Linked DNA regions of Homo sapiens. The protein of the gene in region 2 purifies or fractionates together with the protein of the main gene of each other region. This does not show direct contact. Each region holds a gene or a part of one and is shown on either strand. Other genes may lie near its edges.

Evidence for each region. The genes of interacting proteins can lie anywhere in the genome.
Region 1: the proteins of CD300LB (region 2) and RAD51B purify together in Homo sapiens (affinity purification with mass spectrometry; one large-scale study listed by BioGRID and IntAct). This does not show direct contact.

What each region holds. Positions count from the first base shown.
Region 1 is NC_000014.9:67,818,401-67,822,578, forward strand, and holds the start of RAD51B (DNA repair protein RAD51 homolog 2), read left to right. Parts: upstream 1-1,378; 5' UTR 1,379-1,453; intron 1,454-4,178. UniProt on the Homo sapiens protein: Involved in the homologous recombination repair (HRR) pathway of double-stranded DNA breaks arising during DNA replication or induced by DNA-damaging agents. May promote the assembly of presynaptic RAD51 nucleoprotein filaments.
Region 2 is NC_000017.11:74,528,676-74,532,640, forward strand, and holds the start of CD300LB (CMRF35-like molecule 7 precursor), read right to left. Parts: upstream 2,801-3,965; 5' UTR 2,787-2,800; coding exon of another isoform or gene 2,676-2,786; coding exon 2,636-2,675; intron 1-2,635. UniProt on the Homo sapiens protein: Acts as an activating immune receptor through its interaction with ITAM-bearing adapter TYROBP, and also independently by recruitment of GRB2.

The DNA.
Region 1 (4,178 bases), on a different chromosome or scaffold from region 2:
CTTTGGGGAGGAATTCAGTTCATGGTTTGACTCTGAAACAAAATTGATAACAGCCCTTTCCGAAAAGACCCACTTCTTGCCTGGGGACCAGTCTGCCTTTGCAGGACTAACAAATTAGCTACAAGTTTAGAAATTACAGTTTAGAGGTCATGCAGCCTCTGGCTCCAAGAGTCTGAACCTCCCCAAATTGCTCCCGGGGGTGACATCACTATTGCAAGCCCTAAGATCAGTGCTTGAGATATTTTGTAGACCCTGCACTCCATGGATCAGCTGACACCACTCAGACCAGTAATTTGGCGCAACCAGTTTTGCCATCACACCCAGGAACAGAAGACATTAAGAAAACCTCACTTCGACCCCTTATGATTCCATCTCCAACCTGACCAATCAGCACTCCCCACTTCCTAAGCCCCTACCAGCCAAATTATTGGTAAAAACTCCGATCCGCAAATGCTCGGGACAACTGATTTAAGTAACAATAAAACTTCAGTCTTCCGCACAGCTGGCTCTGCGTGAATTACTCTTTCTGCATTGCAATTCCCCTGTCCTGATAAATCGGTTCTGTCTAGGCAGCTGGTAAGGTGAACCCATCGGGCAGTTTCAAAAGTGCTGGGATTACAGGCATGAGCCACCGCGCCCAGCCTATTTTTTGTATTTTTTTGTAGAGGCGGAGGGGTGGGGGAGGGTGTCTCACTATGTTGCCAAGGCTAGTCTCGAACTCCCAGGCTCAAGTGATCCTCCCGCCTCGGTCTCCCAAAGTGCTGAAATTACGGGCGTGAGCCACTGCGTCTGGCCCCTTTAAGCCATTGTGAAAAGTGATGATACACGAAAAAAAAGATTTCCAGGGCCGAGAGCGGTGGATCACGCCTGTAATCCCAGCGCTTTGGGAGGCCGAAGCGGGCGGATCACGAGGTCAGGAAATCGAGACCATCCTGGCTAACACGGTGAAACCCCGTCTCTACTAAAAATACAAAAAAATTAGCCGGGCGTGGTGGTGGGAGCCTGTAGTCCCAGCTACTAGGGAGGTTGAGGCAGGAGAATGGCGTGAACCCAGGAGGCGGAGCTTGCAGTGAGCCGAGATCGCGCCACTGCACTCCAGCCTGGGCGACAGAGCGAGACCCCGTCTCAAAAAAAAAAAAAAAGAAAGAAAAAAGAAAAATTTCCAAACAGGGTGTTCCCTTGTTTCACATTCTCTTTGGTGATGGTCCTGCAACAGATTTTGATAATCACTATATTGAGAAACTGCTTCAGATTCGATCTGTTAGGCTGATCATAGTATTAACTACAATTCCCAGCAAGCCGCGGAGCCAACCTGGGCCTCTGCCGGCCTCTGATTGGATACAGTAGCCAGAATGACGACTCAATCAGTGCTTCGGTTGTTGCTTTGCGGCGTTTTCCGCGGGGAAACTGTGTAAAGGGTGGGGAAACTTGAAAGTTGGATGCTGCAGACCCGGTACTGGAAAGTTTCATGTGGGGTGCCGTTGTGGGGAAGTGGGGTTCGCTCATTATTTCCTGCTCCTTCCCTAGGCTCGTGGGTTTCGATATTGGGGGAGCGGAGATTTTCTCTTGGGTGCTGGTCACGCCCCCTTAAGACTCGGGATCGTCACTAAGAACCCCGCTGTGAATTGGGGGAGCTTCGGGCCTTCTTTTGGTGGGGAATGCTTGGAAGCTGCTCATTGTTGGAAAAAGCTCTTTTTAGGGGATTCTGGGTGATGTTTCCGCCTGTTGCTGCCCATCTTCCTCCCCAGCCCCTTCCCGCTTCGGGCAGCCTGTCATTAGGGGAAGTTGAGGGACTCTCCCACTTCAGGTGGTGTTGGAGAGCGTGGAATCTGGAGTCCGGTCCCTGGATTCGAATGCGAGCTTCACACCAATTGTCAGCTGTTTAACTTTGCCCAAGTTTCTCAACTAGTTACCTCAGTATCCTTATCTGTAAAGTGAGGTAAAATATCCGAAGCCTTTGGAACAGTGTGGCACGTAATAAGGGCTCAATAAATATTAGCTAATATTGTTCCTAAACAGTTGTTGAACATCTAACATGAAGAATTTTCTTTTCTTGGTGGTAAGGAGGACAGGGTTCATTCTCCAGGGTTGACCGTCTCCCCTCATGTGCAATACACATACGTGCTTTCGCGCACACATACACCGCAGGAATTTACGTGCTCCGGTGGGGGCAAACAAACTTGCAAGCCATAATAGTATTTTGATAAGATTATCGAATAGATATGTGCGAAGTTGATGAGAACATTGGAGAGGAAAAGACTTGACTCTGGGGAAGGTTTTGTGGAGGGAAGTCAGGGAGACAGGATGCGTGACCTACCAATACACATACCATGTGGCTGGAGGGCAGATCATGTGAGAGTCATTAAATGATGATTGCTGACCTTAAGTACTATGTGCCACGCACTCCCCGAGTCCTTTAACCTCCACTACAGTCATATGAAGTAGTAAATTCATATGACTGTAAAACAAGGGTTTTAAGGAAATTAAGACACTGAGAGGTGAAGTAACTGCCAGGAAGGATAGGAACTGAACGTTGCAATGTGATGTATGAGTGAGAAGGAAGTGAGGGACCAATTTTTGATGTTTTTCTCTGCGACCCTAAGAAGTTTGGAATTTATCCTGTGGTCTACCAGTCCCATGGGAAGTGTTAAAGGATAATCGTGACTTTTTAGGAAGCTACTCAAGGCAGGATTGTGACACTGATCTGACTTTTGCAGGCGAATTTGGGGCTTCTTCCTGTCTGCTTCCATAGCACTTTTAAATAGCAATTGTAATGCTTACTGCATGGCTGTAGTTATTTGTGTGTACCTCTCTTTTCATCTCAACTATGAGTATTCAAAGGGGAGGGAATATGCTTAAATGATTCTTGTACCCCAGACCTCAGCAGGGTGTGTATTTAAATGCCTGTGGAAGGAGTAAATTAAGGAACAAATGAATGGAGTGGCCAGAAACAATATGCAATAGTCCAGGCAAGTGATGGGAGTGGCCCTATTAAGGCAGAAATGGCAGAATTGGTTGTTGTTAAAGTCCTTGTAGTTTAGAATTTATAGTTTTTTGTTTGTTTGTTTTTTGTTTTTGATAGGGTCTCAGTCTGTTCCCCAGGCTAGAGTGCAGTGGCATGACCACAGCTCACTGCAGGCTCGACCTCCTGGGCTCAGGTGATCCTCTCATCTCAGCCTCCTGGGTAGCTAGGACTACTACAGGTGTGCGGCACAATGCCCAGCTAATTTTTGTATTTTTTTGTGGAGACAGGTTCTCTCTATGTTGCCCAGGCTGGTCTCAAACTCCTGGGCTCAAGCAATTTGCCTGCCTTAGCCTCCCAAAGTGCTGGGATTGTAGGCGTGAGCTACCTTGTGTGGCCTATGGTTCTTTTCTTTCTCCTTCTTTTTTTTTTTAAATTGAATTTATCAGTCTAAATGGTGTCATTACTTGAAACTACCTGATCTGAAAAGACACTAGGCAATATTATAGCAGGTATCACTTGGTTTTCTACTGGGGGAAACAAGTCATTGCTAACAAATTCCCATGGAGAGAAATGAGGAGGATGTATTTTTGTTTGTGAGAGGTGTGTATGTATGTATATTGTGTGTGCGTGTGTGTGTGTGTGAGAGAGAGAGATTGATTCAGTCTGATTCAGAGAATTTAGGTGTTAAATAGAAATTTGGGCCATGGTATTGGAAATAAACAAATATATACATTCTCAGTATACATATATTTTCATTCCAAAATGTTACTTCTTTTCTGATAACTATATTGCTTTATTCCTTGGATCCATGAAGAGTTCCTGTTTCAGTTCGTTCCAGAGGATACTTCTTTACCATCTCAATGAGATATACAGCTTCTCCTTTGTATGCATTAAGAGACTCACAGTAATTCTTTTTTAGCTCTGTGAAGATAAATCTTTCATGAGCCTCATTTACCCCTAGCAAGGTACAATAGTGAAATTTAACTGCATGTGAGAATATAAGCAGCTAGTGTAATAAAGAACATTTTGGGCCAGGTCTGATCGCTCATGCCTGTAATCCCAGCACTTTAGGAGGTCAAGGCGAGAGGATCACTTGAGCCCAGGAGTTCGAGACCAGCTTGGGCAACATGGCAAAACCCTGTCTCTACAAAAAATACAAAAATTGGGCAGGCATGGTGTCGACCCTGTCTCTACAAAAAATACAAAAATTAGC
Region 2 (3,965 bases):
AAGGACAGCATGACATCAGAGAGAGTGTGAGCTTTGATGCAGAAAGACTTGACACTGAACTAGTTGGGAAACCCTGGCAGAGTTGCTTAACCTCTGCAAGTATCGCTTCCTTATTCATAAGACAGTCATGCTACGCTCTACTTTGAAGGTGGTAATAGGACTTGGATGTGTGTAGGCTGGGCAAGGTGGCTCATGCCTGTAATTCCAAAGCTGTGGGAGGCTGAGGCAGGAGGATCGCTTGAGCCCAGGAGTTCCAGACTAACCTGGGCAACATGGTGAAACCCTGTGTCTGCAAATGCAAAAGATTAGCCAGGAGTGGTGGTGCATGCCTGTGGTCCCCACTGCTTGGGGGGCTGAGGTGGGAGGATCGCCTGAGCCTGAGAGTTCAAGGCTGCAGTGAGTTATAATCGCCCACCACTGCACTTCAGCCTGGGTGACAGAGTGAGACACTGTCTTCAAAAAATTATTTATTTTTAAATTTAAAAGAAGACTTGGATGTATGTCCAACGCCAGACATTTGGGGTTTGCTCTGTCAGTGACAGCTCATCAACAGGTCAGAACTTCATCTGTGCCTGGATCATGGCAGTGGCATCTGGAGAGGTCTTCCCAGCCCCAGCAGCATCCTCCCCAACTCTCCTCTCCTGAGGATTATGGCCTTCATAATCTTGTCTTTTGTGTTTCCAACCTCATATCCAACTCGCCACCCCCAAGATGTCCTGCACACTGACAGCTCCCTCAGCTTTCCTCTCCATACTGCTGCCTGAGTTGGGTACTGAGACTGTCTCCTCCTCCTCATCAGCTGCACTTGCCCTGAGCATCTAAAAGTCTTTTCGGGGCCGGGCACGGTGGCTCATGCCTGTATTCCCGCACTTTGGGAGGCCAAGGTGGGTGGATCACCTGAGGTCAGGAGTTCAAGACCAACCTCACCAACATGGTGAAATCCTGTCTCTACTAAAATTACAAAAATTAGCCAGGCATGGTGGCAGGCACCTTAATCCCAGCTTCTTGGGAGACTGAGGCAGAAGAATCACTCGAACCTGGGAGGCGGAGGTTGCAGTGAGCCAAGGTTGCACCACTGCACTCCAACCTGGGTGACAGAGTGAAACTCCGTCTCAAAAACAAAAAACAAAAACAAAAACAAAATACCCAAAAACATAAATTGGATTTGTCAGCAATCACTAACAGCAGAAAAGAGATGCTGCTGCATTGAACAAAGTGTCATCAATCCCAGCTTCAGTCATTCAAACTGTAAATGGCTCACGATGTAATTAGTCCCGTTTAAAAAAATATTTGGGGGTTTCTCTAACCACAGAATATGATGGCTGGAACTATTAATCAGGCTTCTATATGTTGTCAAGAGTTGGTATGAGGAACGATAGAGATGGAAATGACAGGGCAGCCGTCAGCTTGGAGCAGAGCCCCGTTGAACGGGCTGAAGGGTGGAAGTCCAGCCAGGACTGGAGTCGGGTCTCAGAACTCCCCAGCCATGCTCTTTCCTGTTGTCCCTCCGTGGACTGCTCTATCTGTGCCAGATGGTCAGTCCCTAGGCACCAGCAGAAAACTGTGTGGCCCACACACATTGCACACCCTGCGTAAAATTCTAGATTGTCCCCTAATGCCCTCTAGGTGTCCACCAAGGTTTGCCATGGAGAAGATCATCTAGCCCTTCCCACTTTCCACCTGGGTTCTTGAGAAGTTTTTTCTTTGAAAGTCTCAGCTCCTGAGCCTGGCGTGGATGGCCTTCATAATCTTGTCTTTTGTGTTTCCAACCTCATATCCAACTCGCCACCTCCAAGACATCCTGCACACTGACAGCTCCCTCTGCATGAATCCACCATTCTTTCTAAGCCTCCATCTCTCTGCCCAGGTCCCCCAACACACACACACACACACACACACACACACACACACACACACCCAACTCTCTAGAGTGTTCTCCTCTCAGCTCTGCTCCAGAGACTGACCTTCCTTCTACAAGGCACATCAAGTGCACAGCTTCGTGAGTCTTTCTCTAGTCACCAGAGAGAACTGCTTCATCCTCCGCACACGCCTCCACCAATGCCTTATTGTGTCCTGCAATTGCTCATTGTTTATGTGTATGTCTCACCCACTAAGCCATCTGGAGTCTTTTTACTTTATTTTTTTTTTGAGACAAGGTCCCACTGTATCACCCAGGCTGGAGTGCTGTGGTGCGATCATAACTCTGCAGAATTGAATACCTGAGCTCAAAGGATCCTCCAGCTTCAGCCTCCCAAGTAGCTGGGACTACAGGCACGGTCACCACGCCCAGCTAATTTTTGTTCATTTTATATAGAGACGAGGTCTCACCATGTTGCCCAAACTGGTCTTAAACGCCTGGACTCAAGCAATCCTCCCACCTTGGCCTCCCAAAGTGTTAGGATTATAGGTGTGAGCCATGGCCTCAAGCCTGGAGTCTTCTTTAATGGCCAGTTCTCCTCCTCTTTTTTCTTGATGTCCTCAGGCCCCGAAGCACACGATGTCAGTCCCCAGTGCACCTTTGTCGAATGACTTCACAAAGCCACCTCTCATTTCCCTGGATGTGGAAGGACAAATGCCCTCTGCCTCCTGCCCTGCCCCTGTCATACCAAGCGCCCAAGGCCCCAGCCCCACTCACCTGAGAGGCTGAGAAGGAGCAGAGCAGGGGGCAGCCACATGGCTCTGCCTTCCCGGCTCCTCGTCCGCCTGATCTGCAACCAGTGGCAAATGCAGATCCCAGATGCACTCTGGAAGTTCTGCCTGAGCTCTGGCTTGCACCTTCTGCACATCTAGACCGCCTTTGACTTTCTTACTCATTCACTTCCTTTTATAGAGTGGGTAGTTCCTGCTTTTAATTATTAAACGAAAGAGGTGTCATTTTTTGGCAGGGCTGCGCCACAGGGCTTAAGCATCGTCACTATGTAAAAAAGAGGAGGGAGGGGACTGTGCAGGGTCTTTAGGGTAGGGGGAGATACGTCTGCAGAAGGGGTGGGGTGGGGGGCGTCTGGCCTAGCAGGCCTTGGGTCCAAGGGGTATAACACTCTGGGAGTCAATTTCAGAGCTGTTCTATACCACAGTGAACACCCAACTCAGATGTCGGATGGGTCATGCTGGGCACACCTGAACATGCATTTGTTCAGGTGTTATAGCCAAGTGCATAAACATGCAGACTGTTGGGTCAGACAGACCTGGCTCTAACCCCACGAGCACCACCTACAAGCTGCGTGACTGTGGACAATGCAATCAACATCTCTGTGCCTCAGTTATTGTATCTATTAACTGGGCTCATAATGTTTGTTGTTGTTATAGGAGTTATTAAGAAATTATTTTAGGTAGATAGGAAAAGGGGTGCTTGGGAAGATTTTTTTTTCTTTTAAAGCAGCTCCATAAATGTTTCTTGTCTAGAAGAAAAGCCCTGGCTCTTAGAGCTGGGCAGGCAAGCTTTGATATGCAAATACAGGCCATTAGAAACTGCGTCCACCCAAACATGGAGACTCCCGCCTCTTCTTCTTTTCCCCACGTTCCTGGCAACATGGCCGCCCCTACATACACCCATGTGTGTAGAACATCATGGCGCCTGTATTTGCATATTAAAAGGCTAGGGTAGGAAGGCTAGTTTTTTCGTGGGCTACTTGAATGACATACCTGGTCAAACCAATCCCCTGGGCCCTATGCAAATCAGGTACCGCCTCCTCCAGCCTCCTCATATAACTGGCTGTTTTCCACCGTACTCGAGGTTCCCTCTTTCAGCTTGGAGCCCGCCTCCCTCAGTCTCAGAACAGGGGGAGCCTCTTCCTTCCTTCTTTCTTGTCTATTAAATTCTCCACTCCTTAAAACCACTCCACGTGTGCCCATGTTGTTTTATTCAAACCAGTGGGAGACCAAGGACCCTAGTGTTCCTCCAGTCATCAGAGCCATACCATTTTGTTGCATTGGCCGGGAATCCAAGGTACGACACTCATCGGAGT